2 separate regions of the Homo sapiens genome follow, and region 2 is linked to region 1. A link means that fine-mapping ties the variant in region 1 to the plasma level of a protein whose gene starts in the linked region. Region 1 holds a variant in brackets. A gene starts in the other region. All regions are shown on their forward strands.

Region 1 (11,700 bases):
TATTTATCAGAAAAACTGCTCAGACCCTAGAGCCCATACTTTTCCGGAAAGGTCCTGAAATATAGTGTGGTAGCTAACACTACAAAAGTCAAATCTCAGAATTCCTACCCAGGGTAGAGAGGATACAGAAAAGGACTGAGGGATAAACAATCTGGCAGAAATGCTTTAGGGGATCCTAGCGAGGGAAAGGAGAGAGGTGGCCAAAGGGCCTTTCTTGTGCTTTTCCTATGTCTGGCCCATTCCCTGCCTCTTCTCCCTGTTACCTCCGCTCTCCCCTCAGCGAAGATCCCTGACTAGACCAGTTTCTCTTTAGTCCCTCGCTCATAGGCCTCTATTTCTCAGGACTTGGAGTCTTGCATTTGTGGTTCCTAGATTAACACGTGTCCTCACTAGACTCTCAGCTCCAAAAGGTAATGTCCTTTTGGCTCACCGTTGTGTCTCTGGCATCTACGTACCTGTGTATTTTATTGAAAGACACATGTCACCCAGTTTATTATTACTCTTGTAGAACTGCAGGGAAAGGGCAGGACAAAGAATATGAGAAAAAAGAAAGTGGAGAAAGGATATAGGGCTTTGGATTAGAATGCTACCTCCTACCCAGACACATTCATGAGAAAACTCATATCCTTAGACAAACTCCTAATTCTGTATCTGTCCTACCTCATGGGTAGGAGGTAGGACAGATACTTCTATTTGGGTAGTTTTTTTTTTTTTTTAAACTTAATGTCACCTCTACACTCCTGTTTTATCTATACCTTAGGGACAGAAGCACACCATTGCTTCCAAGACTGTGTGCAGACACTGACATTCATCTCCCATTTCTGGAAGAATTTTTAGCTGGGCATGTGGCCATCTGATACACATTTCCCTGCTTCTTTAGATGGGGTGGGAGGGGGGGACATGGGACCAAGTTCTGGCCCCTAAATTCTGGACAGAAGTAATGGTCCAACTTCCAATCCGTGACCTCAGGAGGGGCATACCTTCCCGTTCCTCTCTTCCCCCTTCCAGCTGGCTGGAGAGTGAAGTTGGGTGGGAGCCTTCTTTGGCCACATGGACGAGGCTGCCTCCAAGGGATGGTGGAGTCACAAGACAGACATAGGCTGGGCTTGGCAGTAGATTAGCATTGGGCTGTCACTTGGATGGCTGATGTGAGAGAGATGCATTTCCATTTGGGACTAGTGACAGCAGCTGAACTGACATCCTCATTCTGGCATCGTCTTGAGCAGTCAGGAAATGAAGAGAACAGAAGCAGCATCTCTGTGGTAGTGAACTAGTGGTAAAAATGTGATCATTTATTTGTAGAATAAATGACAGTACTTTGGCTGTCACAGTGATTCCTGCTTGGTAAACTGGGAACAGTTCAATAATTTATCTTGCTCAGATGTGTTTCCTTATCATCACCTTAGTCCTCATTTCCTTACTTTAAATAGAGATAGGAGTTAAAAGTTCTGAACCTGGAGCCAGACAGCCCTGACTTTGAAATTGCAGGACTGACATTTATTAACTACTCTATTTCCATAACCATGTCATAAAGCTATTATAAGGATATAGTGAGATAACGGACATGGAGCTTGGCCAGAGTAAGCACTAAATAAGTGTTTTCTATGCTATTATATATATGTGTGTGTGTGTGTGTGTGTGTGTGTGTGTGTACATTAGTCAGGATTTTTTCTTTAGCAACTGAAGGAAACCTAATGAAACTGGTTTGAGAAAAAACAGAATTTATTGGTTCATATAACTAAAAAGTCCAGGGTTAGCCCAGCTCCAGGCATAGCATTAACCAGGGAGTCAAATCAATGTCATTGGACATAGCTTGCTCTCTCCAACTCTCAAGTTTATTCCATGTTGGTACTATTCTCTGGCAGGTTTTGTCCATGAGGTTATAAGATGGCTGTTCCCAAACTCCAGATTTCTATCTTTATCTTTTCAGCAACTCTACCAGGAAGCATCTTTCTAATGAAAGTCTGGGAAATGATGCCTCACTGGTTGTGACACTATCCCATCCTCCAATCAATGCCACTGGCCAGGGAGATGCCAAGTTTGGCTTTGCCAGGACTGGGTCACATGCGCATACTGGGGTTGAGTCCATTCTTCTTAACCATGTAGATTGTCAGCAGGAAATGGGTGGTAGTAGGGAAATTGGGGTGCTTTTTTTGTGAGACAGAGTCTTGCTCCGTCGCCTAGGCTGGAATGCAGTGGTGTGATCTCAGTTCACTGCACCCTTTGTTTCCCGGGTTCAAGTGATCCTCCTGCCTCAGCCTCCCAAGTAGCTGGGACTACAGGCACACTCTACCACATCTGGCTAATTTTTGTATTTTTAGTAGAGACAGGGTTTCACTACGTTGGCCAGGCTGGTCTTGAACTCTTGGCCTCAAGTGATCTGCTCACCTCGGCCTCCCAAAGTGCTGGGATTATAGGCGTGAGCCACCGCACCCAGTCTGGGGTGCTTTTATTGGAAAAGGGAGTACATGCCAGGGAGGCAAGAACATTTTTTTTTTTTTTTTTTTTTTTGAGACTGAGTCTTGCTCTGTCACCCAGGCTGGGATGCAGTGGCATGATCTTGGCTCACTGCAACCTCTGCCTCCCAGGTTCAAGCAGTTCTCCTGCCTCAGCCTCCTGAGTAGCTGGGATTACAGGTGCGTACCCCCACGCCTGGATAACGCCTGTATTTTTAGTAGAGACAGGGTTTTGCCATGTTGGCCAGGCTGGTCTCAAACTCCCGACATCAAATGATCCACCCGCCTCGACTTCCCAAAGTGCTGGGATTACAGGCATGAGCCACCATGCCCAGCCTCAGGAACAGTATTTTATAGTATGTAAAAGACTCAGCCGAGTGCCTGGCATAGTGAGCACTAACAAATGTGAACCATCATGCCTCTCCTCTGTCTTCTGGTTCATGGTCATTCTGCACAGAGATGCTATATATAATCCTCCCCCCCCTTTTTTTCTTTCTTTAAAACTTGCTTTACACTCACCTCCTCTAAAAAGCCATCCCCGAACAACATTAGACTTATTTTTGCAAAGGCCCATATTTCCACTACAATTCCCTATGAATCTCCTTCCCAAATCATTAAGGGCCCACCTTCTTTCCTTCCCACTCTCCCTCCTTCCTGCTCCCTATGTCTAGGAGCAGCTATTTACTAAACAAGAGGGTTACTGAGTATCTACAAAGAGTCCCAGAATTAGGGTGCAGTTTTCTGCAGCTGCAGTACCATCCACAATCATTTCCACAACCTTTTGTGTCTGCAAGACTCTATAGTCTGACGAGGCTGATCGAAACCTCCAATGTGCCATTTTGAAACTTATAATTATTAGACACCAATAGTTCAACCTACACTGTTATTGTTGGTACCCAGGGTAATACTGTGAGACATCCTGCAAGGAACTAGCAATAAAGAAAATAAAACTGCTCTTTTGGGAACTAAGCTGTAATGTCAAGACAATGGTTTTGAGGAAAGACATAAAACCACCATAAAGAGACAACTGACTCCTAGGCCTGGGGTCAGGGGAGGGATTTAGGTAGCAAAGATGGACCACTCTAGAAGCCAGAAAAAAAGTAAGTGCACAAGCAATGGATGGCACTGCAGGATCGATCATGAGAACCTGGTCGACGGGCTTAGGACAGTGTCTGAGGTTCAAGGCAAGAATATTCCTAACACAGGACTCACTTCAGACTCTCTAAGCCTGGTGATTTTGAATATTTGATGCCTCTACGTCCTATGTTCAGATTTTGTGATCTCTAAGCAGCCCTCTGAGCATTACTTGGCTTCACAGGTAAAGTTAACTCTAATTCTTGCATTTTGGTGACAATTTTATTTTATTAGGTATATTTAAGATTTACAACATGATGTTATGGGATACATATAGATAATAAAATGGCTGCTATAGTGAAGCAGATTAACATTATCATCTCAGTTTTTTTGTGATAATAGCAGCTAAAATCTACTTATTTAACAAAAATCCCTAATACAATTGTATTAACTTTAGCCCTATCTCTAGACTTGTTCATTTTATCTGCTATTTTGTATCCTTGGCCTGCATCTCCCCATTTCCTCTTCCCCAATCTGTGGTAAGCACTTTCTCTGTGTACTTGAGCTCTTTCTTAAAAAATTAAATATTCCATATGTGAGATCATGCAGTATTTTTCCTTGGGTCTGGCTTATTTCACTTAGCATAATGTTCTCCAGGTCCATCTATGTTGTGGCAAATGGCAAGAACTCCCTCTTTTCCAAGGATGAATACTATTCCACGGCATGCATATGCCGTATTTTCTTTATTTGTCCATTGATGGGCATTTAGGTTGTTTCCACATCTTGGCTATTGAGAATAACACTGCCACAAACATGTGAGTGCAGATATCTTTATGAGGTGATGATTTCATCTTTTTTTTTTTTGAGATGGAGTCTTGCTCTGTAACCCAGGCTGGAGTGCAGTGACGCAATTTTGGCTCACTGCAACCTCCACCTCCCGAGTTCAAGTGATTCTTCTGCCTCAGCCTCCCAAGTAGCTGGGATTACAGGTGCCCGTCACCATGCCCGCCTACTTTTTGTATTTTTAGTAGAGACGGGGTTTCACCATGTTGGTCAAGCTGGTCTTGAACTCCTGACCTCAGGTGATTCACCCACTCCAAAGTGCTGGGATTACAGGTGTGAGTCACTGCGCCCAGCTGGTGATTTCATCTTCTTTGGGTACATACTTACTCAGAAGAGGGTCAGATAACAGTTCTATTTTTAATTTCTTTAGGAGCCTCCATACCGTTTTCCATAACGGCTGCCCCAGTCTACACGCCCACAAACAGTGTACTAGGGTTCTCTTTTCTCCACAATCTCATCAACATTTATCTCATGTCTTGTTAATAGCCATTCTTATAGATGTGAGGTGATAGCTCACAGTGGTTTTAATTTACATTATTCTTATGATTAATGATGCTGAACACCTTTTCATATCTATACCTACTGGCCATTTCTTATGTCTTCTTTGGAGAAATGTCTGCTCAGGTCCTTTGCCCATTTTTAATTATTAGTTTTTCCACAATTGAGTTGTAAGAGTCTCTTATTGAAAGTCTGCTGGTATTACAGGTTTATAGCTCAGTTTTTTGAGCTTTATTATAAATCTGACTTTCAGAAATAGATCTGCTTCCCTTAAAAAAATCTAGTTCCTGGATGAGGCTGATAGACCTTTGATCAAAGTCCATTCTCCTTGGTAATGAATGCTCCTTGTTTCTTAGGACAGCCAACTGGTATATCCTTAGACAAACTCCTAATTCTCTATGCAAAGCCATTATCATGGTTTTCTATAATAAATAAGATAAACAAGCAGGAACTAATAGAAATTTAATGTTGTTTTAAGATAATACTTAAATATTAAGAAAGCTAAAATTTAAAATGTGTTGACTAGGTTTTTCTACACAATTATATTTACATAATGACTAAGGTAAAACCTTTCCACAAATAGTTGCCCAGGAGGAAGAAAAAGCAACCTACAACAGTCTCTGGGGCTTGCACTGCCTTCTCAGGCCAGCTATACCCTAGCTGAGCAAAGAACTGAAGAAGCAAGTGTCCACTCCCCACCCCTCTCCCCTGCCCCCCTTTTGTTACTTGAAGTGTTTCTGAGTAACAAATGCAAAACTAGGTTTGAATATAAAAGCTAGACGACCATGCCAATTCAGGATTGTGTTTCATCTGAGGAGACCTGGCATAGAAAAAACAAGAATTCTCTCTCATTTACAAGGATACTGTGATGAAAGTCAAAGATCACACATAAATTTATGATCTCTGAGCAAAGGCACAGCTAGCATAAACTCATCTGTAAAATGAGGGGTTTTGACTTGGCCATCTGTCAAGGTCCATTCAGCCTGTCAAGCTAGCGTCAAAGTTCAGATCTTCCACGATGAAAGAACTTGCCCTCTGCTAAGGTGGATGCAGAAAGAAAAGTCCCATTATATTGTGGGACCAACCTTCTGATATAAAAAACTATGTTGGGATTAAAGTAGATCAATAAAGTATAAATATTTATCATAGTTGTAGGGTAAATATTCAAAAGTTTGAAATTTATGTATACTGTAAAACTGGCAAACTGGTCTTAAACACATAAAGCAAAGATTTTCCCATGGGGAGAGAAAATTTGAGAGTAAGCCCAGTGAATTACTTAAGTCCTGAGCGTCCATAATCTGCATCCATGATGCCTCTCTTTTTTTCCAGGTCACTTGGACAAGAATATTTCTTGTCTTATGTTGGTTCTGAAACACCTTTTTTAAAAAAAGCATCAAGAAATTATGATTCAGGGGTTTGAAACCCCAATGTTACAGGCAGCGCCTCATTTCTAC[G/A]GAATATAAAACATTTTGTTTCTTCCACTTCTAACAGTTCATCAAGAGAAGCCACTACTAAATCGTGTTCCTGCAGCATTTCTGGGTAGCGGGACACTGCTCGCTCAATCCTCGACGAACGCCGTACAGGAGTGATAAATTTCATGTCTTGCACTTCCGGCATCCCATTTATTCTGAGAGACAGCAAGAGATGCATTAAAAACCTTATCATTTAAAAAAATTATCTTTATTATTTTTTGTTTCTTATTCAATAATAAAACAGGGAAGACATTTTAACATAGGGTGATACAAGAGATATGTCTAGAGCAGCTTTCATCTTCAGATGGCTTTTTCTAGGAGTTCGAGACCAGCCTGGGCAACATAGCAACACACTATCTTTACCAAAAAATATAAAAATTAGCTGGGCATGGTGGCACACACCTGTAATCCCAGCTACTCAGGAGGGTGAAGTGGGAGGACTGCTTGAGCCCAGAAGGTCAAGGCTGCAGTGAGCTATGATTATGCCATTGTACTCCAGTCTGGGCAACATGGCAAGACCCCAGTCTCAAAAAAAAGGCTTTTCCCTGATTTCCAGAATGTACTGGGTGGTGTCCATCTGTTCTTGGATGGTGTAAGCATAAGGATTTATTGAATGAAGTATGAAGTGTGGTTTTTATTTGAAGTCAAATATTTGGCAGTTGGTGTTCATTTATTCTATAAACTTTCAAAACAGATGACAAGTTTTAAGGAAATGGGGCCTAATACCAAATTTGGTTGAATTAATGAATTCCAAGATTCTTTCTAGCTTTTTCTTTTTAAAGACAGGGTCTCACTCTGTTGCCCAGGCTAGAGTCCAGTGGTGCAATCACAGCTCACTACAGCCTCAACCTCCTAGGATCAAGGCATCTGTCCACCTCAGCCTTTCAAGCTGGTGGGAGCACAAACGTATGCCAGCATGCCTGGCTAATTTTTTATTTTTCATAGAGTTGGGGTCTCCCTATGCTGCCCAGGCCACTCTTGAACTCCTAGGCTCAAGTAATCCTCCTGCCTCGGCCTACCAAAGTGACAGGATTACAGGCATGAGCCACCATGTGCCCAGCCTTTTCATTTTTTTTTTGAGATGGAGTTTCACTCTTGTTGCCCAGGCTGGAGTGCAATGGTGCAATCTTGGCAGACTTGCCTGCTAGTTTTCCTTAGGCTAATGTAATTAGTGGTTTTGTGAATTCTAGAGCCATTAAGAGGTAGTTTTTGGATTAACTGTTTTCATCTACTTATGAGCTGACTGTAGTTCATCCACTTATGAACTGAACTGTTTTCATCCTCTTATGAGCTGACTGTAGTGGGAAAATGGTGTGTGTCAGAGAGTTTAGGATTGGAAGAGATTCGGCTGTGCTTTCCAGGTAACTAAAACAAAGAACTGTTGTCTTGGTGCCCTTGTTTGGAATTCTTTCCAGATCATGATCAGAGAAGAGTGGTGCTACACTCACATTTTAGAAAATGACACTGACGCCCTGACATAGCTCCTTAAATTACTATGGATTCTGCCTTAAATTTATATTTGTTAAAAAATAAAACGTTTCTGACTTTATGAGCAGTCTCTGACTAGTACATACTCCACTGCTCTCCGTTCTTAGAGGGGTATTCACTGTCCCTTTTCTCCCACAGCTACAGAGTTTGCTCCCGCTTGGGACTTTGTGCCCCATCTTATCACCCCAACCATACCCAGCTGTGTCAGGACTTGCAGGAAAGGCAGATAGGATCTGCAAGTGCAGGACAAATGAGAGTGAAAAGGTAGGCGAGACCATAGGACGGGGGTGAATGCATTCTAATACCCCTCCTGACTCTGGCAGCACCTTCCTCACTGCAGGTCAGGTCTCAGTTACTCTAGATCTGTGAAGGAAAAATCGAGACTTGGACTAGAATTAAGTCTGTGAACACAAAGTCTGCTTTAGAGTTTGCTTACCTAGGGATTGGACCAATCTGTAATTTGATACCAGGATAATTATGCTGTTCTGCCTTGGCTATTCGGGGTGTCGCCGTGACTTGTTCCCTCTCTTTTGGAGAAAGACAAGACTTCACAGATTCCATCTTCTTGGCCAGCTCTTCCACTGATGTTATACTAGTTTCAGCAACTAAAGAGTCAGAAGTAATCCCTGTGTATGTAAGATCATGAAGGAAAGTAAGATTTACCAATTTAATACTTCAACTAGAAGTCAATAACATGAAAAATACATACATACAATGATTTCCCAGTGATCTTCATGGGCTCCACATACTGAATAGTGATTGATTTGAAGTGTGACTTATAACTTGTTTTTTCACGTTAAGCTCTGTAGCAGTGTCTTGCTACATCAGGCTACCCTCGTAGCCAGCCCCCGAGACTGCTGTACGTAGATTCTTGACACCCTTTCAAGACTCTGAACATATCTCCAGTCTCCTATTCACTCTCAAGAGAGCTCTCTTAGGGACTAATCACTGGCCTTCTACCCTTACACCACACCTTGGATCAATTTTCTTGACTCACTAAGGTTAACTCACACAACCTCCCAATCCCATTCCTCCCCAGGATGACCACATGGTTACTGCCTTGGACAGTGGGCAAAAACTGTCTTGCATTAATAGTTTTCATGGTAGCCCAAACACAATCACCAAAATGAAAGGAAGGAAATCAGACTGTGCCAGGCACACTGTGGCTAGAGGCTGACACCCTAAGTGAGGTCAATAGGGTGCAACAAAGGCATGGATTCCTGTCTTCTCTTTTTATTCCTTTTAAAACACTACCATGTTTTAACCAAATAACTGAATTGTAGCCTCATTCTCAAAGAATCTACTATTATCTATTTTATGTCCTTCTTACCACATGTAGTGGGTTACTTAGCTACATGACTTGATTGTTCCCCAGTTAAATCTACTCTTTTTTTTTGAGATGGAGTTTCGCTCTTGTTGTCCAGGCTGGAGTGCAGTGGCGTGATCTTCATTCACTCCAAATTCCACTTTCTGGGTTCAAACGATTCTCCTGCCTCAGCCTCCTGAGTATCTGGGATTACAAGCACGCACCACCACAACTGGCTAATTTTTCTTTTCTGTTTTTTTTTTTTTTTTTTTTTTTTTTTAAAGACAAGACAGGGTTTCACCACGTTGGTCAGGCTGGTCTCAAACTCCTGACCTCAGGTGATCCACCTGCCTTGGCCTCCCAAAGTGCCGGGATTACAGGCGTGAGCTACCGTATGCAGCCTAAATCTACTATTAAAGGAAAAAGATTTGTCACCTTTTAAGATAACAAGAAGAATCCAATTTATTTTCTAAAGATAGCTTGTTTTTTCTTTCCATTCATATAACAAGTATCGTAAGCAATTATAATGTCACTCGTGTTTGGCACAATATATGTCTCATAGAAGAGTCTTCTAAAGGTTATGACCACTGACAGTGATGGTCATCCAATTGAAGAGATTCCTGAGATAGCTATTTTTAAAGCGTAACACAAATTTAGATGAGTATGTTGGTGGGTTTATTATGATTAAACATGTAACTTAAGGCATTTCTCCTTTCTGCCTCAGTCTCTTCCAGCAAAGAGCTGTTTGTCTTCTGCCATCTAGGATTCCAAGGAAGTGGGACACTCCAGTCTAGGCTGTTTTGGTGGAAACAACCTTTGTTCAGTATTGAGTAGTGCATTTACTTGTAATAATACAAATAAGTCAGCTGATGACAATGGCTGAAAGGGCCAGGTCATGGAAACCAAGAAGTGAGAAGCATTTCAGGGGATGATTCTTTTCTTCTTTTTCCTATATGTCCTGGATGATTTTTACTGGTACAGCTAGAGAAGATGAATTTAAATTCAAAAATAATAGTACCTTCTGTGGTTCTGTTTGAGTCTTGCAAGATATTAAGAACAACTTTCCGCAACTCTTGTATTGGCTGGAAGGAAGGAAGAAAACATACAAAATCTTAAAAACATTCATGCAAAAAATTTGCTAAGGAACTTTAACTTCAAATACATGTTTTATAATAAAAGTTTCCTTTTAAAATCTCGTCTAACTATAAATCTTTTGTCTAGCTTGACAGTTTTATAGCTTCATGAGAAAAGTAAAGGAACAGAGAAAATTCTGATTAAGTGTTGGCACACTCGACTTAATGAACAGATGTATTTAAAGTTGTCCATAATGTAATTTGTCTACATCAAATTCTATTTTCCTATTGATTTGTATAATACTGTCAAATATGTATTCCTACATAAAAATTCTGGCCCAATGATGTAAAGCTAGCCACACAGAAAATGCATTTTATATATAGATATAGATATATTTTCTTGAGACAGAGTCTTACTCTGTCCCAGGCTGGAGTGCAGTGGCGCGATCTCGGCTCATTGCAAGCTCTGCCTCCTGGGTTCATGCCATTCTCCTGCCTCAGCCTCCCAAGTAGCTGGGACTACAGGCGCCCACCACCACGCCCAGCTAATTTTTTGTATTTTTAGTAGAGATGGGGTTTTACCGTGTTAGCCAGGATGGTCTCGATCTCCTGACATCGTGATCCACCCGCCTCGGCCTCCCAAACTGCTGGGATTACACGAGTGAGCCACTGTACCTGGCCCCAAACACAATGTTTTTTGAGATGGAGTCTCTGTCACCCAAGCTGGAGTGCAATGGTGCGGTATCGGCTCACCACAAACTCCACTTCCAGGGTTCAAGTGATTCTCCTGCCTCAGCCTCCCGAAGAGCTGGGATTACAGGCATGCGCCACCCCATCTGGCTAATTTTTCTATTTTTAGTAGAGACGGGGTTTCGCTACGTTGGCCAGGCTGGTCTCAAACTCCTGATCTCAAGTGATCCGCCTGCCTCAGCCTCCCAAAGTGCTGAGATTACAGGGGTAAGCCACTGTGCCTGGCCCAGATACAATCTTTGTAGGCATTTTGAGTAATTTTCTCCAGCTTTTCCTGTCTTTCTTCTTTTATTTGTTAACATACTTAGAAAAAAAAACCTTCATGGAAAAGTAATTTTCTGATAAAATTATCTGAGATAGGCTTTATTTTTCAAGTATGTAAACCATGCCATGAAGCAGAAGCTGCACTTTCCCACAAGAAAATTATAGTTGGAGGTTTGTCTTCCTTACCTGGAACTCTGTATCAAATAGATATAAACTGACAATAAAGCATAAAAGCAAAGCTTTCCGTACATTTTTTCAAAATCCAAAATAGAATTATGATTTCAGCTAAATGAATGGGAATAAATGTATAGAATATATTACAAAGAGTGAATTCTATACAACATTCATCAAGCATATTTTATATTTGTATAGCCTTCTGGTTAATGATGGTGGATTAAATATACGTTTATTTCTAATCTCTCTTGAAAATCGACTGAAAGGATAATAAAGGGATTAAGAAGAGGCAATAACCACAA
Region 2 (11,123 bases), not on the chromosome of region 1:
TAGTTCAGTAGTGCCTGTTATTCCATATTTTAGATTATCATTCAGTTTTCTTCAACTTCTTATTGACAGTTTGTCTTTGTGAACAATTTGAAGAAGAATGCTAAGTCAGGATTTATTATATAGAGTCTATAATTCACGTTAGGGCATTTCCAATTTAGTAGCAGTTTATTGAGCAGCACTAAGGAACTATGAATACATCTGTACTTATGGTGCCAGGATTTTTAGGACGTATTCTTCTTAGGTACTTAAGTGAAACTATGGTTTCAGTGTTATGTGATAATCTCAGACTTGCTCAATTTCATTACCAGTGTCTGGTTAATAAAATTTGCAGACAAGGCAAGAAGAAGCAACTAAAATTGCCTCATTCACCCCTTCTCCAAAAAAAACCCTAACAGTTTTTTTTGTGTGTGTACTACTTATAATCCACAGAATGTGCTGACCATATCATAAAGATTTATAATTGTTGGCTATGAAAATCTTTTCAGAAATAGATACAAAGAGGTATATTAATTCCATGTGGGCATATTAGGTCCTGTACTCAGTAGCCAAAAATAATTAAGTATAATCTTTCCTTTTCTAATAGCATTATCCAAAACTACTCCATTTGTTTGAAAGCTCTTCTTGGCTAATTAGAGGAAACAGTCCTGAAATTTTAAGTCACTGTGAGTGTTTGGCATCTTAAGTTCCATGTATTTAAAATCGAATCTGCAGTTTTTTCTGCTAAACTACATCTTCCCCCTCATATCCCTATTTCTGTTAGTGACAGAACTATTCTTTCAGACCTCAGAAGTTCAGCCTTTTTTCCTTGTCTCTTCTCTGCTTTAAATTCAGACTCAAATCCTTAACATGTTCTTTGTTTCTTTTTTGCATCTTCAACTTTCTTTTTCTGAGATGGAGTCTCGCTCTATGTAGCCCAGGCTGGAGTGCAATGACGCGATCTCGGCTCACTGCAACCTCCACCTCCCGGGTTCAAGCGATTCTCCTGCCTCAGCCTCCTGAGTAGCTGGGATTACAGGCATGCACCACCATGCCCAGCTAATTTTTTGTATCTTTGGTAGAGACGGGGTTTCACCATGTTGGCCAGGCTGGTCTTGAACTGCTGACCTCGTGATCCACCCGCCTCGGCCTCCCAAAGTGCTGGGATTACAGGCGTGAGCCACCGTGTCTGGCCTCAGCTTCAACTTTCACATCCAATCTATCACTGTCTTGATTATTTTTGTACAGTGTACTTGTCATTATATTTCTACTCTTACCAATACCACCTTAGTGTAGCCCTTCTTCTTTTTATGATAGTAAAATACAAATAACATAAAATTTACCATTTTAACCATTTAAAAGAGTACAATTCAGTGGAGTTAAGTACTTTCACAGTGCTGTGAAGCCATCACCATAATTTAGTTCCAGAACATTTTCATCACCCAGAAACTCCATACTCATTAAGTAGTTACTCCTCATTAACACCTCCCCCAAACCCCAGTCAGCTAATTTGCTTTTTGTTTTTATGGTTTTGCCTACTCTAGATATTTCCTATAAAATGGAATCATACAATATGTGGTCCCTTGTGTCTGGCTTTTTTTACTTAGCATATTTTCAAGGTTCATCCATGTTGTAGCATGTATCAGTACTTCATTCCTTTTTATGGCCGAATAATCTATTGTGTGTGTATACCACATTTTATCCATTCACTTGTTGATGGATATTTGGGTTGTTTCTGCTTTCTGGCTGTTGTGTATAATGCTGCTATGAACATTTGTGTACCAGTTTTTGTTTAAAGAGCTGTTTCAGTTCTTTTGGGTATATACCTAGGAATGGAATTGCTGGATTATATAGTAATATATAATTACTATAATTATGTTTAACTTATTGCAGAGCCAGCCCCATTACTTTTCACACCAGTGTTTCCCAAAGTGTGGGACACTACCATGTACATTGATAATAACGTTTAGTATCAGTGAATTATTCTCTTCTTAACTTCAATCCCTCTGATTAATTAAATCAGGGGGAATATTAGTATTTTTTCATTGTATTTTGTTTTATCATTACATTTTATTTCCATGGCATGTATTACCGATTTTACATGTACAGTAGTGAAAGTTTACTTTTCATGTAAATGTACGTAAAATAAAGTGGTATACAGAGTTTCTAAAAATATAATGAAGATCAAACAGAGAAATGTTAAAAAAAAATTGTAAAGATGATATGAGAATGCCTTGAAGTTTTGGAAATACAGACCTGAGATATTGCAGCTATTGCAGCAAATCCCAACTGATTTTCCTCCTCCACTCTTTCCCACTTTCAATCAACCATTCATGCAATTCCCAGAATATTTTCCAATGACTTTGATAGGGTCACTCTCTTCTTCACAAACATTTATTGAATCCCCATTTTGTACAGAGTAAAATTCAAGGTTATTTACAGTTTCATGTCCTTCATCCTTCCAACCAAACGAATCTAATTATGATTCCTAAAAATCACTTTATACTTCCTACTACTGTACATTCCCTTGTGTCATTCCTCTGCTGTAAATTCCTTTTCCCTTAGTTTATATTGCCATTCAATAGGGTCTGATATGCACCAGAAACTGTACTGTTGGCCTGGGCTACAGCAGCTTTCTTTTACACTTATGAGAGAGCAGATATTAGGCACAGGAATAATTCATTAATTACAATTGCAGTAAGTAGTATGATGGAAAAATAGAGAGTGTTATGGAAATAAATAAATAGGACACCTAATCTAGTTAAAGCTGAAGTGGTGGTTTCAAAGGCTTCTTGGAGAAAAAGTCATTTAAGCTGAGACCTAAGCAATTAGTAGGCATTAGCTTAGTGAAGAAATGGGCAGAGAGAATAGTATGTGCAAAGGTACCAAGGTGGGGAGGATCTTGGCTCAAATATGTTAATTATTAATATTTCATATATTTATTTTGCTATGAAGAACTTTAGGTGTATGTTTTCTTCTCAGTAATAATGTACTGGCCTATAATATTTAATATACTTCTTACAAATACCAATTTATCATGCAGCCTTAACTCTGTGAATTTTTTTTTTTTTTGAGGCAGGCTTTTGCCCAGGCTGGAGTGCAGTGGTGTGATCACAGCTGACTGCAGCCTCAACCTCCCAGACCCAAGTGATCCATCCACCTCAGCTTCCCAAGTAGCTGAGGTTACAGGCATGTGCCACCATACCCAGCTAATTTTCCTATTTTTTATAGAGATGAATTTTCGCTATGTTGCCCAAGCTAGTCTTGAACTCCTGGGCTTAAGCCATTCACCTATGTTGGTCTCCCAAAGTGCTCAGATTATAGGTGTGAGCCACCATGCCCAGCTGACTATGTGAATTTTTATTTTTAAAGAGACTTAAAAAAAAAATCACTGTAAGTAGTCAAAGATTAGATTCAAGTCTTTTTTTTTTTTTTTTTTTTGAGGTGCAGTTTCACTCTTGTTGCCCAAGCTGGAATGCAATGGCATGATCTCAGCTCACTGCAACCTCTGCCTCCCGGGTTCAAGCGATTCTCCTGCCTCAGCTTCCTGAGTAGCTGGGATTACAGGCACGTGCCAGCAGCCTCGGCTAATTTTTTGCATTTTAAGTAGAAATGGGGTTTCACCATGTTAGCCATGCTGGTCTTGAACTCCTGACCTCAGGTGATCCGCCCGCTTCGGCCTCCCAAAGTGCTGGGATTACAGATGTGAGCCATCGCACCCAGCCAGATTCAGGTCTTAAAACTATCCAGGGAATTTATATGGAAGTCCCATCTCTATATAGATATTTATATAGATTTATATAACAATTTATTATAAATCTATATTGTATCTATAACCTATATAATAATGCAATATAGATATATCTGATTATAATCCTATAATAAATATTTTTATTTTTCAAATGTATGGGTGCCTATATAGAGAGTACTGCTATCAGTCAAGGCTTTTGGTTACATGCAGAGAAACCAACTCTGGCTATCTTAAGGAGAAAAAGAATTTAGTTGGAGGTTGAAGAATCCACAGGACAATGGAGAATAAGTCTTGGAAAATGGACAAAGACCTAAGGGAACTAGGTGATAGGAAGGACTAGCCAGAGTCATGCTACAGGAACACACATTGGGAAGACACTACTGTAAGACTTTCATTGTTTCTCCTGCTGCTGCCAGGCTTGAAATAATTTTCTTACTAATAGTATCTTTGTGATGCCAGCTGGAGTTCAAAGTCTAGGGTAGAAACAGCATGGCTGAGTCCTTGTTGTGGCTACAGGAGAGGATCTCCTGTCTTTGGCTTCTCTCTTTTGGCCTCCCACCAACACTCACATAAGGGATTTTCTCCAAGTAAGAAGGGGGTTTGGACTATCAAGACCCCCCAAGGCCGACAAAAGAAACAACTGTCTTTCCCACCTACCCATTAAAATATATTTCTAAACAGTTTTTCATGATGACGGATAGGTGTATGTTTCTGAAATATAAGGCAAAATTGTTAAAGGCATCTCAAATGTCCTGGAAAGTATATAGATCTTTTTTTAAAAAAGAAAGGTTGTGGTAGTTTATTAGAGAAAAAAATGACTTTGATTCTTTAAACTAGTCTTGAGTATACCTAAATTTTACAGTATATAGGCATGAACAAAGAAATTGATTAGATTATGTATTTTTCTAAGAGACAGAATTACAAAAAGTAAAAGTGATTGCTAGGTATACATTTGCTTATTTTTCAACATTTTTCTTTGGTAGACAAAAACATTTTGTATTTCAGATGTGTCCAAGATATTGCTATCATTTATACAAACGGATCAAAACAAAAAGTACAGTAAACACACATATCCTAATTGCTTCAAAACATCTCAATGAATAAAAGTTGAAAAACATCAAATTAAGACTGGTGCTACTAATTTGGTTATGAAATATGTGCACTTTTGCCAGTATCCCATAGCGTATAATTTTTTTCATAGTACATTTTATGAATTACATTTAATGAATTGGTTATAAAACAAACCAAATGATGCATAAGAATGTCTCCCTACATATTGATGTGCTACATGATGTTTGGGGAAAGAAGTGTGTATTTGCATGAAAAAATGTTTGAGGAATGTTTTACGACACATAGATGCTTTTGACTTATAAGGGCTTGACTCCAGTAATAATGTCAATGTCTCCACCGTAACCACAGATAGTAATATAGCATAAAGATCAATACAGACAGATGACTTCTAGAGACAGAAATGTTCTCATAGTCACAACAGAATAGTTGTAAGCATCAAATCTAGAAGGTTCTCTAGCCTAGAAATGCATGAATGTATAATGCAACAAGTAAGAACGTGAAAGCACTTTGTAAACTCCGATGGTAACCAGCCTTTCTTAAGGTAGCTTTTCCTAGAAATCCATTTAATTGTTGGACTCCTTTGGGCAGTGGAATTCTGATTGTCATTCATTCAGGAAGACTGTATTTCTGTTTTTGGTCCTTTCACCCACCTTTCATCCTTCACATAACTGTACAAAAGTTGAAAGTCACAAAACCATAGAAAAGTCTCAGTTTCCTACTGTAGAATTCTTGTCATTTCAGTAGTCACAGTTAAACTTGTTCTAGGTTTTTCAGATGCTCTTTTCCAGGACTTCATATGTTTTGATATTTTTAAAAATTCTTTCTTTCAACTTTCTGGAATAAGAAAACAAGAGTTTTATTTACTTGGGCTGTTCTTGTTTCCCCCAGGACATCTAAAAACATGTAGTAAGAAGGGGAAGCTGTTACAACCAAGGACCCCTTAACAGAATATTTCACACAGGATCATAGCAGAATCTTTCTGTAGTTGTCCACATTATTTTCTTTTTCAAAAGATCTGTCTTGGATAAAACAGATTATAACATGGGAGTAATTTGGTAACTTACTTTGATTATAAGCCTTGCTTGCTTCGATTTGGGATTTAGGCATCGTTGTCCTTTATTTTCTTTCAGGGTAATACTGTTAAAAGAACATACAAGAGTCTTAAAGTTTAGATGCAAATACATAAACAAAAAAGCCTGCACCATTGTCATCTTCAGCAAGTTCATTACTTACATCACTTCTATTTTGTCACAGTTGTTACTTGGGTACATTATGGAGGCTTTCTCAATATCTGCCACTTTCACTGCTTTTACCCCAGGGCCTATGCAAAGACAGCGTCCTCTTTTGAACATGGGGAAGCCTAGAATAGATCATAGCATTAGTTAGTAATGCATCTGATTGCAACAGATGGCTGTGGTTTATAGCTGGTGGTGAACGTGAGCAGAATTTTCATTAAGGGTAAAGATAGTAATTTGTCAAATAGCACTTAACACAACTGTTACTGGGAAAAGTTAAGTAAGATGTTGATTATTTTCTCATTAAATTAGTAAGCAAATCGCTAACAAATGGGAAGCATGAAGGAAGTTTATTGGAGGTGAAGCTTGTTTTGCCCCCTTGATTTTATCCTCAAATATTTTCCCAGGAAGCTTGTTAACATGATCGCTATATAAAATCTTCTTAACAGACATTTAAAACTGTTGCTAAAGGCTTTTGCCAGATATTCTAGCCAAATCAAAAATTCCATGAAGTTCATAATTTCTAGTTTCAATAATCATCTCTAGTATCTTAAACATGTCCACCATTTCTGTGCTAAAGCTGTAGTAACTTCTAATCTGTGAGATTAAATAAAACTTTATCATGTCTTTTAGGATAAAAGTGGAAGAAAAGACATTTGAAACATTAGAAAAGGAACTTATAGGTTGAGAAATAAAAATTACTGCATACCTTGAACAACTGTAGCACACAATATCACAGCCAAGGCTATAGCCATGCCCTTCACACTCATGTTTGTTTTTTGCTGTTGCTGCTGGTGCTGCTGCTGCTACTTCAGCTTTGCTGCTCTTCTTGGAAGGAGTAGAAATGCTGAACATGAAAGGAAATTGATAATTGGCATATATAGAGCATTTTATACACCAGCAATCCTTTTATGGCACAGGAATTTCCCTCTTTGAGTCATGCACCTTTCCTGCTTCCAAGAGTTTCTGTTTTGTTCTCTTCTAAATGTTACTGTCCCTTCCTATTTGCAGTAGTGTTGAAAGTGATAAGAATGTGAAAGCACTGTGAAAACCCAGATGGTAACCAGCCTTCTTAAGGTAGCTTTTCCTAGAAATCCATTTAATTGTCGGACTACTTTGGGCAGCGGAATTCTGATTGTCATTCATTCAGGAAGACTGTGTTTCTGTTTTTGGTCCTTTCACCCACCCTTCATCCTTCACATATCTATACAAAATAATATTCTGAAAAGCTTTTTTTTATTATCTCACTTTTGCTTTTCAGTCCAAACTCTTATAATAGATAAGGCCTATATTATTTGACACCAGATGACCTTTATTCAATTTCATATTTTTACCTGTAAATGAGTGCCTAAAGAAGTTTCCCTGTGTTTCTGTATTTATGTCCATATTGTTTTGCATTTTCAACAATTTTTACTTTATATATTTTATTTTGTTTTGCTTTATTTTATTTTTAAATTTAATTTAATTTTATTACTTTATTTTATATTTATTTTATTCTGCAAAGCTTTCATTATAGGCAGATGGCAGGGGGCTCAGTCCTTCTTGGCAGCTGCTTTCCTCATGGCAGCCAGGACGTTGCTCAGCTCCTCCTGCCTTCTCTTGGTGCAGATGTTTGTCCCTACCCTTTTCTTGATGAATTTGAGGGCCTGTTTGACCTTGGAGACCTTCAGTAACTCCATGCCACGCCACTCGTTAGGGGTGAAGCCACACACCTCTGGGATCATGTCCCACACAAATTTAGTGAGTTTGGTCAGGCGCCCACAGTGGCTGTGCCTGGGCTTGCTCACATTCTTGGTCACCTTGTGGCCCTTGTTGAGGCCCACAGCTATAGGGTAGTGCAGTGTCATGGCTGCTGCCCTCCAATGGTGGCCATGGTGGAAAGCTACTTTATATATATTTTAGCACTGTTACTTAGTACATGAAGTTGTATGAGTTGTATTAGGGATCATAAAAAAAAGTGATCCTCTTTGCTCATGTGATAGTTTTACCTCTGAGATTCTACTTTGATGTAATTCCTATTTTTTTGTCTTTATCTTTTCCTCTTAAGCTTCCTAAATCTTTGTTTTAAGTGTGTCACTTGTAGATGTTTAAGAAAATCATATCAAAGGAGCTTTCTAATGGGTAAGCTTAATAAAATATATTTACTGTATAACTGGTAATCTGTAATTTTTAAAATGCTTCCTTGCTGATTCTTTATGTTTTCTTTGATTTCTTTCTAACTTTAAATATATTTTATTTAACTTTTTGAAGCCATTTTTGTTTTTTTTAATGAGATGGGTCTCACTCTGTCACCATTCTGGAGTCGAGTGGCACAATCATAGCTCACTGCAGCCATGAACTCCAGGCCTCAAGCAATCCTCCTGCCTTGGTCTCCCAAAGTGCTAGGATTACTGGGATGAGCCACGGTGCTTGGCCTTCCTTAAGTAATTTGAAAGGAATACATTGTTTTACATTTTGATATTAATTCTTAAAATTCTTTAAAAAGATTTTTACCTGAATTTTTCTAATTATTTACATCAACCATCAATAATATTTTTTTAGCTCCTGTCTTTGTAACATGAGAAAATCACTGTAACTTTCTTTCAAGAATTTTCTCCTATTTCCTAGTTTTACCAATAAAAGTTGGTATAATCGGGGAATTTATAGCCAGTTTATTACTTTTAGATTATTATTTTATCTTATTCAACTTCTTTTTTTGAGAATTATCATTTGCATTTTATCTTGAAATTATATATTTATTTAGATATAATCCTGCATTTAAATTCTTTAACAACCATGACTAGTCTTTAAAACCTTTGAAAGTCTTTACAGTAGTCCCCCATTAAATGAGAAATTCTAGAAATAATTCATAAGTTTTAAATTGTGCACTTTTCTGAGTAGCATGATGAAATCTCACATCATCTTGCTCCATCACTTCATCCCATCACATAGACATTTTATCATTTCACAGCATCACTAGAAGAGTGAGTATAGTACAATAAGATATTTGAAGAGAGAGAGACTACACAGTCACTTAACTTTTATTACAGAATATTGTTGTAATTATTCTATATATTAATGTTGATGCTCTTACTGTGGCTAATTTATAAATCAAACTTTTTTATAGGTATATATGTACAGGAAAAAATACAATATATACAGGGCTCAGTACTATCTGCAGTTTCAGGCACTCATTGGGGGTCTTGGAACATATCCCCCAAGGATAAGGTGAGGGGGCTACTGTATTTTAATTAATTTCCAAGTAGCTGGAATATTCTTTCCTTCTTTTCCATTAATTCATTTAACATATGTAAAGAAAGACTAATTTTCCCTCAGGAATATGGGTAAAGTAAAAGGAATGTGTTCTTGGAGCTCATAAATCCTTATCTGTTATTATTTTTTAATGTTGCTTTTCATTTTCTCAGCATTAGAAACACAGTAGAGCATAGTTGTTAATAGGGAAGGCTCTAGAGTCAGCCTGTGTTCAAATCCACCCTTGATTATTTATTTATTTATTTATTTATTTATTTATTTATTTATCTTTGAGATGGATTCTTGCTCTGTAGCCCAGGCTGGAGTGCAGTGGTGTGATCTCGACTCACCACAGCCTCTGCCTCCTGGATTCAAGTGATTCGCCTGCCTCAGCCTCCCAAGTAGCTGGGATTACAGGTGCGTGCCTCCATGCCTGGCTAATTTTTATAGTTTTAGTAGAGATGGTGTTTAGCCATGTTGGCCAAGCTGGTCTTGAACTCCTAACCTCAGGTGATCCTGCCGCCTTGGCCTCCCAAAGTGCTGGGATTACAGGCGTGAGCCACTGTGCCCAGCCCACATTCAGTTATTTATGAACAAGTTACCTCAACTTTTTGAGGCTATTTTCTCATCTATAGACTGGGGATAATAATAGTACTTTTTTTTTTTTTTGAGATGGAGTCTCTCTGTGCCACCCAGGCTGGAGTGCAGTGGCATGATCTCGGCTTACTGCAACCTCCGCCTCCTGGGTTCAAGCGATTTTCTTGCCTCAGCCTCCCAAGTAGCTGGGATTACAGGCATGTGTTACCACGCCCAGCCAATTTTTGTATTTTTAGTAGAGATGGGGTTTTACCATGTTGGCCAGGCTGGTCTCAGACCCCTTTTTCATAGGGCTGTTATAAACTAGGTATTAAAAGAGGTAATGCATATTAATCATTTAGAAAAATATGTAGCACTCAAAATGTATTAACTGCTATTATTATTATCAGTGTCCTTTCCTGAATTGGCATACCACATCTAGCTTGTTTTCAGCTGTTTTTCAGCATTAACACAAACACAACCACTTAATAAAAGATGAGTTGACATTGTTATAGCATATAAAAATATTTTAAATTATAATAACCATGAATATAAAAATAGCATACTAATCATAAAAATCACTTACAGAAAGTGCATGAATGCAATAGCATAGTTCAAATAATATAGACAAACAATAGTGAATATTTCTGCTTACTAGCTAAAGTGTTGTCATATAGCTTTGGTGTAAGACAATTTCTTAAATAGGGATTCTTAATTTTTTTAAAAAGACCCTGGAAATTATTAAACATATTTTTACATTATACTATTTTAAATAGAAAATAGACATAATTCAAATTTACATAAAACAAGACTAAACTCTTCCTTTTGCCTTCATGTGTGAATTACTACTTAGCTGTGTAGAAAAACTGTGGATCACAATTTTCTCCTTCAGTACTCTGCTGGGAGTCTTGGAATGTATCCCCCAAGGATAACAAGGGGACTACTGTATTTTATTTTCTATTGTTTTATTTTCTTCCTTACTGCAAAGGTAATATCTGATATTTTAAAAAAACATTAGAGCTGGGCATGGTGGCTCATGCCTGTAATCCCAGCAGTTTGGGAGACCGAGGCAGGCGGATCACTTGAGGTCAGGAGTTCGAGACCAGCCTGGCCAACATGGTGAAACTCTGTCTCTACTAAAAATACAAAAATCAGCTGGGTATGGTGGCGCATGCCTGTAATTCCAGCTACTTGCAAGGTTGAGGCAGGAGAATCGCTTGAACCCAGAAGGCGGAAGTTGCAGCGAGCCAAGATCGCGTCACTGCACTCCAGCCTGGGTGACC

Which allele goes with the higher level. Alleles are on the strand shown, and positions count from the first base shown. The strength of an association depends on the size of the effect and on how common the allele is.
With allele A in place of G in region 1, the plasma level of the protein whose gene starts at base 6,886 in region 2 is higher (weak association).

The links. A credible set is the group of variants that fine-mapping cannot tell apart. PIP is the chance, under the fine-mapping model, that this variant and not a neighbour inherited with it causes the effect. Protein levels are from antibody-based Olink assays in UK Biobank. Linkage for the fine-mapping came from a reference panel and not from the study's own genotypes, which makes the PIPs less certain.
Region 2: it holds the start of CXCL11, and the variant in region 1 is the best candidate, but not a certain one, in a credible set for the plasma level of the CXCL11 protein (UK Biobank, PIP 0.69).

What each region holds. Positions count from the first base shown.
Region 1 is chr2:112,732,551-112,744,250 of GRCh38, forward strand. It overlaps NT5DC4 (5'-nucleotidase domain containing 4), which reads left to right. Exons shown (of 17, transcript NM_001393655.1): 17 at 6,363-6,545. The coding sequence ends at 6,386. It overlaps CKAP2L (cytoskeleton associated protein 2 like), which reads right to left. Exons shown (of 9, transcript NM_152515.5): 7 at 10,156-10,219; 8 at 8,268-8,457; 9 at 3,799-6,498. The coding sequence ends at 6,273. Among named protein-coding and RNA genes, the nearest start is that of NT5DC4, 17 kb to the left of the region's middle. The variant G/A (reference allele first, on the strand shown) is at 6,326.
Region 2 is chr4:76,029,185-76,040,307 of GRCh38, forward strand. CXCL11 (C-X-C motif chemokine ligand 11) reads right to left here and starts at 6,886. Exons shown (of 4, transcript NM_005409.5): 1 at 6,743-6,886; 2 at 6,032-6,158; 3 at 5,863-5,935; 4 at 4,498-5,632. The coding sequence starts at 6,803. The coding sequence ends at 5,609. It also overlaps a transcript of ART3 not described here and the pseudogene RPL36P8.